Regions from separate parts of the Homo sapiens genome. Here region 1 is linked to region 2. The links come from fine-mapping of genetic effects on gene expression. A gene starts in region 2. The other region holds a variant in brackets. All regions are shown on one strand. Distances are from middle to middle. Region 1 overlaps MYH10 (myosin heavy chain 10). Region 2 holds the start of NDEL1 (nudE neurodevelopment protein 1 like 1).

What was found. PIP is the estimated chance that this variant, and not a neighbour inherited with it, causes the effect. A credible set is the group of variants that fine-mapping cannot tell apart.
Region 1: its variant is the best candidate, but not a certain one, in a credible set for the expression of NDEL1 in monocytes (Fairfax 2014, PIP 0.51).

Annotation. Positions count from the first base shown.
Region 1 is chr17:8,608,658-8,614,038 of GRCh38, reverse strand. All of the region lies in intron 2 of MYH10 (myosin heavy chain 10), which reads left to right. Among named protein-coding and RNA genes, the nearest start is that of MYH10, 19 kb to the left of the region's middle. The variant G/C (reference allele first, on the strand shown) is at 2,287.
Region 2 is chr17:8,432,479-8,437,859 of GRCh38, reverse strand. It overlaps NDEL1 (nudE neurodevelopment protein 1 like 1), which reads right to left and starts at 1,976. Exons shown (of 9, transcript NM_030808.5): 1 at 1,815-1,976. RefSeq lists silencers at 1,423-1,662, 1,703-1,902, 2,003-2,172.

The DNA of each region.
Region 1 (5,381 bases), 180 kb before region 2:
GCTATTATCACGTATATACAGATGTAGAAATTTGATGTCTTTCTGGCAAATCATGGAATGGTCATTTTTAGTGATGTTGTTTTCTTGCAAAATTGACTGTTGTTTTCTTGCAAAGTCTGATATTTGCATTAGCCTTTTTTTTTTGGATTAGTGTTTGTGTGGTTAATTGCTTTCTTAACTTACTTTCAGCTTTTCTGTGCCTGTGCCTTTAAAATATGTCTCTCATAAACTGCTTATGGTGGTTATTTTTGTCCCAAATCTGACAATATTTTTCAGCTGGAATATTTAGTTTATGTACATGTGATGTAATGACTGTTACATTTTAGCTTAAATCTGTCCTCTGATTCATTGCTTTCTTTTTATCCTACCCGCTCTATGTTTATTTTTTAATCTTTTTGTCCGTTGGTTATAATTTTTATTATTCTGTCTTTTCACCTCGTGTTAGCTGTCCATTTTTGCTATTTGCTTAGCTATTCTTTTAGTGGTTACATATTCCAACATGGATCCTTGACCTGTTAGACATGTGGAGCTCTTATTCTTTTGTAGATCATGATAGGTAGGGCCTGAGAGCACCTGAACAAATTTATTTCCTCTTCCTTCCTAATTTATGTGCTTTTGTTGTTTAATTCTCTCTATATTTTAAAACCCACAAGACACATATTACATTTTAATACTGTCGATATTCATTTAGTTTTATCCATTACTCTTTTTTTTCCACATCTTTTAGCTTCCGTTCTTTTAGAAAGGGCCCCTTTTATCTGAAGTATCTACTCGTCCTTTATTTTTGAAGTTTTTTTGGTTTTTGCTGGATTTGGAATTCAGAGCCGGCGGTTGTTTTCTTTTAACATTGTGAAAATGCCATTGCATCGGGTTCTGCCTTTCGTCTTTTTCTGTTGAGAATTCAGCTTGTAGTTTGATTGTTGTTCCCTTGAAGGTCATCGGTTTTCCTTTTCCCACCCCGGCCACTGGCTGTCTCTAAAATTTTCTCTGTCTTTGGATTTCAACACTTTTACTGTGATGGGCTTAGGTAAAGTTTTATTTTGTATATAGTGGGTCCTCCTTGTCTTCAAGGGATACATTCTAAGATCCCCAGTGGATGCCTGAAACCACAAATGGTACTGAACCATATATATATGATGTTTTTTCCTATACATACATACCTATGATAATTTTTTTTTTTTTTTGAGACAGAACAGAGTCTCCCTCTGTAGCCCAGGCTGGAGTGCAACGGTGCAATCTCGGCTCACTGCAACCTCCACCTGCCAGTTCAAGCAATTCCACTGCCTCAGCCTCTTGAGTAGCGGGGATTACAGGCGTGCGCCACCACGCCTGGCTAATTTTGGTATTTTTAGTAGAGACGGGGTTTCACCGTGTTGGTCAGGCTGGTTTTGAACTCCTGACCTCGTGATCTGCCCCCTCCTTGGCCTCCCAAAGTGCTGCGATTACAGGTGTGAGCCACCGCACCTGGCCATACCTATGATAAAATTTAATTTACAATTTAGGCGTGGTGGGAGATTAACAACAATAACTATTAAAATAGAGCAATTAAAACAATATACTTAATAAAAGTTATGTAAGTGGTTTCTCTCCCTCTTTCAGAATATCTTATTGTACTCTTCTTGTGATGATTTGATGAATTTCTTTTTCCTAGTTCACAAATTCACAGATAGAAGATTGATTCTTCCCATAGATCCTAGCAGCCTCAGCATATGATTTTATCGTTATTAAGTTGAAAACTTACCATATCACTTAAAGGAAGCACTTTGTGGCTTCTCTTTGGCATATCAGAATTGCCAGCATCACTACTCTTGTGCTTGGGGCTATTCTTAAGTAAAATAAAGGTGACTTGAACACAGTTGATCTGAGATCTGAGAGGGCTACCAAGTGATTAATAGCTGTACAGCATGATGATGCTGGACGAAGGGATAATTCACGGTCTGTGCACGATGGAGCGGAATTGTGCCAGATTTCATCACACTACTCAGAATAGTGCACAATTTAAAATGTATGAACTGTTTATTTCTGGAGTTTTTCAACAAATATTTTTGGACCACAGTTGATTGTGGACAACAAACTGCAGAAAGTGAAACCACAGATAAGGGGCACTACTGCATTCAGCTTGGAGATTGTAGTGGTTTTGACTCTGTGGCTTGATGGCTTTTGTTGGTCCGGGAAAATTCTTAGCCATTATCTCTTCAGATACTGCTTCTGCCTCATTCTCTTTTTTCTCCTTCTTGGACTCACATACTTCACATGCTCCAGATCGTTTCACCTCGTCCCATCTGG[G/C]TCTCACATTCCTCTACATTTTTATCCTTGTTTTTCCCCCATGGATCACTCTGGCTGTTTGCCTCTGATTAAAATGCCGTGTAACTAATTGTTTCTTCAGCTGTATCTAGCTTGCTGTTTAACACATGAATTCTTAATTGTAGTTACTGGTTTTCTTTTTTTGTTTTGTTTTGTTTTGTTTTGTTTTTCAGTTTTAGAATTTTCATTTGGGTTTTTCCTTTAATAGTTTCCAGTTCTCTGTCAGAATTCTCAGTCACGTCTTTAATTACTTGAACATATTGTAACCCAGGGCAATAATACAAGTCAATAAAAATAGACACACAGAGGTTCCAGATATTATCTTGGATTTCAGCCACAACTTGTTGCCTCATATGCCCAGTTATTGTGTACAAGGAATTGTGGAAATAGTTTGAGACTCTGGCTGGCATTAAGCTTATTCTAGAGTTTTGCTTTGGGCAGGCAGGCTTAGGGAAACTAGGACATGTAGTCCATGCAGGAGTTGACTTCTGTTCCAACTGGGCTTCACGCTGTGTGAGGGCTGGTCTGTTTCTCATATAGTCTTAACTCTTAGGGTGTAGCCATCAGGGTCCCAGCTGAAAGCTTGGGGTATTTACCACCGCCACACCAACCTCTTCCTGAGTAGACTGGAATGTTTTAATTTTTGTTCTCTTAGACTTTTGTGCTGCTGAAAGCTCTGCTTAGCATCTTCTCAGCAACGGGTTTTGGGATGCATAACTATTATCTATCTAAGAAAGAAATAACAATTCTCTAATCATCAAATATTCAGTTACTTTTCTTATTTTCCTTTTGTCTCATAAATAATCTCATAAATAGTTGGTCTGTACAATTCAGGATCCAAACAAGGTTGACATATTGAGATTGGTTGCTTAGTCTGTTTTGTGTTGCTATAACAAAATAACACAGATTGTATGATTTATAAACAAGAGAAGTTTATTTGGCTTATGGTTCTAGAGGCTGGGAAGTCCAAGGTCAAGGGGCTGCATCTGGTGGGGCCTTCTTGCGGCATCATTCCATGGGAGAAGGCGGAAGGGCAAGAAGAGCATGCTCAAGAGAGAGCAAGAGATAGAATTTATAGCCACAAGCCCTTTTATAATTGGCATTAATCCATTGATGAAGGTGGAGCCCTCATTATCTAAGCACCTCTCAATAGGCCTCACCTCCCAACATTGTTGCACTGGGGATTAAATTTCCAGCACATGCTTTTGTGGGGACACAGTCAAAGCATAGCAATTGTTATATCACTTTTAATCTCTTTCTCTCCCCTCTTTTTATTTATTTTTATTTATTTTTTATTTTTTTTTGCTTCTGGAGATAGGGGTCTCACTATATTGCCCAGGCTAGTCTTGAACTCCTGAGCTCAAGTGATCTTCCCACCGTGGCTTCCCAAAGTGCTGGGGTTACAAGCATGAGCTACCATGCCCGGCCGCTTCCCCCAACCCTTTTTTTTTTTTTTTTTTTTTGCAATCCTATGGTGCTCCCTATAAACTGGAAGGAGAAAAATCCATAAATTGGATCCAGAGGCTTAAACGGATTCAGATTCAGGAGACACTTAATGCTACATTGTCTCTCACTTTATGATGTTGAGATTGATCAGTAGTGAGTCATTTTAGGTTTTGCCAGCCTGGTTTGTGCATGAGGAGTGGCCTCATCTGCCAGTCACCTAAAAATTTTAATAGTGATGGGCATTGTGCAGATCCACTGTGGCACTGGGAGCTGCAAAATGGTGAGTCCAGTGCCATTATTCCTTCTGCGTTTGTTAGCTTAGCGAATTCCTTTTAATTCAATGTGTATTCCTCCACACACACAGTTTTCTCAAGTTTTTTTTTTTTACAGAGTGTTTTTGCTATTTTCTCTCAAAGAAGCAATAGCAACTAATGTTAGTTATCCTTCCTCTGCCCTCTATGTATTATTATTACTGATAAGTTTTGCCTTTGTAACGTCATTTTCTTTTATTATTTTACCATTGTTCTATTTTTCTTTAAGAAGGATGCTCTCCTATAATAAATGTCTGCTCTTATCACTTGATTTCCTGAGGTATCCATTCTGCCCTTTATTTTCTCCACTGTGGATTTTAATTTTACGTTTTCAGATGATTCCTTACAGTCTTTTCTGGCCCTGGTCACCTATTTTTTTTCTTATGCATTTCTGTCCTAATACGTAGACTCTATGTTATACTATATTCTGTTACAGATATAAATCTGTCTCCTAAAGTTTTCTTTTAGTTATTTTATAGATAATTTCCACAGGTAATTTATTTCTGAATCCTCTGAATGATGATCTTATTATTTAGGTTTTTTTTCAAAATTTGCATGTGAATTTTAACTAGGTGCAGTGTTTGCAGGTGGTATGGGTGAATTATTCTTTCCTTCCTCCCTTTCCTTCTCGATGGTGGTCTGATTTCTTCTGAGAGCTACAGTTGGGATGTAGGGTTACATGATATTCCCAGTTCAATCCCTGTTCGTAGTAGGAGACTATTGTATCTCTGCTCCATTGCGTTGACATTTGCACCAGCCTACACTTCCTGTTTCTCTAATCCTTTGAACCTATGAAACAATGCATATACATAGCCCTGCTTTCTTAAACAGAGGCCGGGCACTTCCAGGCTGAAAAATTTCCCAATCGGCTGGGCGCGGTGGCTCATGCCTGTAATCCCAGCACTTTGGGAGGCCAAGGCGGGCAGATCACGAGGTCAGGGGATCGAGGCCATCCTGGCTAACACAGTGAAACCCCGTCTCTACTAAAAATACAAAAAAATTAGCGGGGCGTGGTGGCAGGCGCCTGTAGTCCCAGCTACGCGGAAGGCTGATGCAGGAGAATGGCGTCAGCCCGGGAGGCGGAGCTTGCAGTGAGCCGAGATCGTGCCACTGCACTCCAGCCTGGCGACAGAGCGAGACTCCGTCTCAAAAAAAAAAAAAAAAAAATTTCCCAATCATAGACAGAGGAAGATGGGCATTCCAGGCAGAGTGGTCAGCATAGGTGGGAGCCTGGAGGCATAAAGCAGCATAGTGGGCTTGAAAATTTGTAAATGTTTCCAACTGCAAATATTTTTGTATGTCTCCCTTAGGTAAAGTATA
Region 2 (5,381 bases):
GTGTATGACCTTCAGAAATCTAGCAACAATCAACTCATTTGAGTTTAAAACAGCCTGTCCAAAATGCCTTTTATTTACAAGGAAATTATTCTTTGTACAATGGTAAGAAAATCTATTTTCAATGATATTGTTTCTGGTTAACAGTTCTAAAATGGACTGACGTTAGAAGAGTTCTTTCAGAACTCACTGTTGGCAATATATGCCTTTTTACTGAAATTCTACTACTCTCAAAGGTGACATTTACAGAATTTTTAACTCTTCAAAGTTGATCATAAACACGGTCTCTCTTTGATTCTATCAGACTTCTTTTTTACTTTATGGAGTGCTCAGAAACTTACGTCAGAAGTAATTTTAAGCTTTAGTAACCAAATTTATCCCAGCATGGTTTAAAATGAAAACAAAAATAAGTTGTTTTGCAGATGTCATGAAAGCAAGATCTAAGTTTTACTAAGGTTCCTACTTATTTTAAGCTCTTTATCCAACTTCAATTTATTTAATTTAAAAAAATCAAAAGAACTACAGCTTCAGAAGATTTAGCAACTTCTATCTGGATCAAGTCAACCTCTAACCAGGGCTGGCCAAAGGTTTTGTTTCTCACGCACTCTAATTTTAAATAACAATAATTTTAATAATAATTCAGAAGAAATACTTCACTTGGTTTCCCTTTACTTCTCTTCAGCCCATGACTTAACGCTGCACTGTGCCCATCAACTTCACGATTTAGCAAAGCAATTAACCAGCAACTCCTGAACAAGCTTCACAGGAAGATTTTTCTCATGACTGAGCAGCCGTTTTTATCCTAGGTGAGTTTTCTCAAAAATAATTGAGTAAGTAATCTACCAGCTTCTGGCATATCTTTGGCAAGTCACATTTTCTGCCTTGTTTTGTAGCTGAGAAGGGTATAAAAATCCCACGAAAAGAAACCAGAACTCCGAGCCTAGAAATGTAAATTATGATCCAAGCTAAACCACTCACCAGTTGGTTGAACCTAAGTATAAATAATTACCCCCATCCCAGCTCCATTTACCCATCGAAATGGCGATAACATAATCAGTTGCAACCACAAGGTGATGCGGTTAGAAAAAGATAGGAAGAAGAGTGCTCTGAAACGTGTAAAGGTGCTACGTAAATAGAAGGTAATAATCAGTGGTGACAGAACTCTCACCTCCTTTGCAAAACTTAAAGGGTCATCTCATGGCTTACAGCAAGAAAAGAGTCGAGCACAAGTAACCCGAGCCCGTTGGTGACACTTTGCCGAACTCCAGGGGGAGGATGATTAGCAGTTCCGGGCGGGAGTCAGGAGAATGCCAATCCGAGCCCAACGTGGGCTGCTCGCGCTCTCGCCCCCCATGGGAGAGAGGCACTGAGAGATCAAAATGCAACCCCGCTCCAAGCCACCCTCGCAAATGAAGGAATTTCGAAGAGGGGGTAGGAGGAGGCGGGCTGGGCGCGCCGCTGCCACCTCCGACTGGGCCACTCCTTGCGCCGCCAGCGCCCCAGCCCACGGTGCCACGTCCCGGCCTCCGTCACCGCCAGCCCTCACCCTACCCGGAACGGGGCACATCTTCCGGAGGCCACCGGAATCGTTCCCTTGCAGGCGCCCCTGGGGGGCCACACATCGGACCAGGGAAGGGAGGGGACAGTTAGAGCGGTTGGAACAGTTGCCCCCAGGCTGGCCGCCCCGGAACCCGGCCCGGCCCGCCCCGGCGGAGCCTCAGACACGGCCCCGGGCCGGGAAGGCTCCCCAAGGGCAGGCCTCGGCGCCGCCGGCCCAGCGCAGCCCCTTAGGGAGCGGCCCCGCGCTGCAGGCTCACCTCCAATGTGTCAAAAGCGCATGTTCGCCGCCGCTCAACCGACGTCTCCCCTCCGCCGGCCCGGCCAGGCCCGCCCAGCCGCTCGGCTCAGCTCCCCTACGCAGCCCCGAGCTCCACTCAGCGTACCTCCGCGCCCGGCTCCTCCCCGACACGTCAGGGACTGCCTGGGTGTCCGAGGCCATTCTGTGACGCACGGGGGCGGGGCTCGGAGCATGCGCGGCAGCGCACGGGTATGCGGGGCGGGGTGGGGCGGGGCTGGTGTCACAGGGGGCGGGCCAGAGCCCGGCGCGCTGACGCCAAGCTGACGGCGTCCTCTTGCGCAGGCGTCCTCTTGCGCAGGCGCTCCTGGACTCTGCGACCGGCTGGTTTTGGCTTGTGCAGTTCCCTGAAACTGCTATTCGGGAGAGTGGTGCCAAGACGGATGGGAACCTGCCTTCAGTTTTCTGGCCACCAAGGCCCTTCAAGTGTCCATGTGTCTGTGTTCCCGTTTATAAAATGAATCTCGGCTCATAGTTCACCTCCGAGTCCATTCCCCCTGCTCGAACACCCAATGGAACATCAGGAGCATTCTAAGCATCACTCTCACAAAGCTCTGTGTTGTTTTTACAGAACTTCCACTGTTTACATTTTGTATTTGTTCTCATCTTCCTCCAGTAGAATTCTAAGTTCTATGAGAGCTAGAACCTCTTATGCCTTGCTCATCCCAACAGATAACTTGGTTCTAGGCAAAGTGGACGCTCAAATATTTGATGAATGAATGAATGGATTCGTTGGCACAAAGGGGATTTTATATTTGCCCATTTATATATTGTATATATCTGAGCATATATTCATTTTTGTATACATGCGTGTACGTGTGTGTATGGGTGTGACTTTCTCCCCTCCAGGTCCCCCAAGAAATGGAGTCCTATGTGTATATATATACCTCTTACAATCCATCTTGGTTTTTGTTTGTTTGTTTGTTTGTTTGTTTTTGAGACGGAGTTTCGCTCTTGTTGCCCAGGCTGGAGTGCAGTGGCGCGATCTCGGCTCACTGCAACCTCCGCCTCCCAGGTTTAAGCAATTCTCCTGCCTCAGCCTCCCTAGTAGCTGGGATTACAGGCGCCTGCCACCACGCCCGACTAATTTTTGTATTTTTAGTAGAGACGGGGTTTCACCATGTTGGCCAGGCTGGTCTCGAACTCCTGACCTCGTGATCCGCCCGCCTCGGCCTCCCAAAGTGCTGGGATTACAGGCGTGAGACACAGCGCCCGGCCCCATCTTGCATTATTAATGTTTATATATTTTTAGTACGTAAACACACACGTGTATGTGTGTGTGCGCGCGTGTGTATTCCCTAGCGGACTTGGAAGCAAGCTGGAGACGATACTAGCCCAAAAAGGAGGGAAAGAGGGATAGGCAACTTACATAGGGAGTGGAAACTTAAAGGAAGAGATACATTTTAAAAACAATTTTAAGAACTTTTGCTGTATAATGTACAAGGTAATCCTTTCCTTTAGGAGATGGGGTCTACTGTGTTGCCCAGGCTGGTCAAGAACTCCTGACTTCGGCCAGGCGCTGCAGCACTTTGGGAAGCCGAGGCGGGCAAATCACCTGAGGCCAGGACTTCGAGACCAGCCTGGCCAACATGGTGAAACCCTGTCTCTACTAAAAGTACAAAAATTAGCCAGGCATGATGGTGGGCACCTGTAATCCTAGCTACTCCGGAGGCTGAGGCAGGAGAATCGCTCGAACCCGGGAGGCGGAGGTTGCAGTGAGCACCACTGCACTCTAACCTGGGCGACAGAGTGAGACTCCGTCTAAAAACAAACAAAACAAAACAAAAAAGAACTCCTGACTTCAGGCAATCTTCCCACCTCAGCCCCCCACAAAGTCCTGGGATTACAGGCACCAGCCTCCATGCGGCACGCAATGTAATCCTTTCCAATTTCAGTGCTTTTAGGATTGGATTTGTGGGTGTGAACACAAAAATAATGTGTAAGACATGCCTCAAGGTGAAAACAAAGTGAGCCTAGGAGGCCCAGTTTATATTTTTGAGGGCGATGGACATAAACAGGAACAATGCAAGATGGATTGTAAGAGGTACCCAAATCAATAAAGATCAGAGAAGGGATTAATGGGGTTTGTGGGAAAGGTAACATATTACATATGCCTATTATGAATAATATTATGAATAATATGCATATTATGAAAAAACTATGCATGGATTTCCAATTTTTTTTTTGCACAGGGCCAAGCATGGTGGCCCATACCTGTAATCCCAGCACTCTGGGAAGCTGAGGTAGACAGATCACTTGAGCCCAGAAGTTCGAGACCAGCCTGGGCAGCACAGTGAGACACCTGTCTCTAAAAAAATAAAATAAATGTTTGCACCAAAATAAATTTGTTCTAACTTGCTATAACATGTCTGAACAGGATCTAGCTTGAAGCACCAAGAAAGATAAGAAATCAGTTTGAAGAGAGTCCCTATCAGAACACATATTCTACAAAATTGAAGCAATACAAAATACTAAATTTATGGTGAAGCCTGGGTGGAAAAATGGTGGAATCATTGACGCTTTATAAAAGTGTAAAAGGACAAAGCCCCAAAAGAAGTCAGCAGTTTACAAATGGATAATTCATTTTAAGAAGAAACATGATGATGTTGAAGATGAAGCCCACAGCAGCAGACCCTCCACATCAATTTGTGAGGAAAAAAAGTAATCTTGTTCATGTGCTAATTGAAAAGGATCAATGATTAACAGCAGAAACAATAGCCAGCACCACAGATATCTCAACAGATTTGGCCTACACAATCCTTACTGAAAAATTAAAGTTGAGCTAACTTTCCACCCAATGGGTGGCAAAACCATTGTGCCCAGGTCAGCTGCTGACAAGAACAGAGCTTTCAAAATTTCACACATTTTAAACAAGTGGGATCAAGATCCTGAAGCTTTTTTTTTTTTTGAAGAATTGTAACCAAGAATGAAACTTCGCTTTACCAGTACAATCCTGAAGACAAAGCGGTGGCTACCAAGAGATGGAAGTAGTCCAGTCAAAGCAAAGTGAACCAGTCAAGAGCAAAAATCATGGCAACCATTTTGTGGGTTGTTCTAGGCATTTTGCTTTCTGGAGGGCTAAAGAATAATAACGTACTTATTACGAGAGTGTTTTGAGAAGATTAGCCAAAGCTTTAGTGGAAAAATGCCCAGGAAACCTTCATCAGAGAGACCTTTCCACCATGATAAAGTTCCTGCTCATTTCTCTCATCAAACAAGGGCAATTTTGCAAGAGTTTCAGTGGAAAATCAGTAGACATCACCTTACAGTCCCAATTTGGCTCCCTCTGAAGACTTTTTGTTTCCTAATCTTAAAAAATCTTTAGGCCAGGCGCAGTGGCTCATGCCTGTAATCCCAGCACTTTGGGAAGCCGAGGCAGGCGGATCACGAGGTCAGGAGATCGAGACCATCCTGGCTAACACGGTGAAAACCCGTCTCTACTAAAAATCCAAAAAATTAGCTGGGTGTAGTGGTGGACGCCTGTAGTCCCAGCTACTTGGGAGGCTGAGGCAGGAGAATGGCATGAACC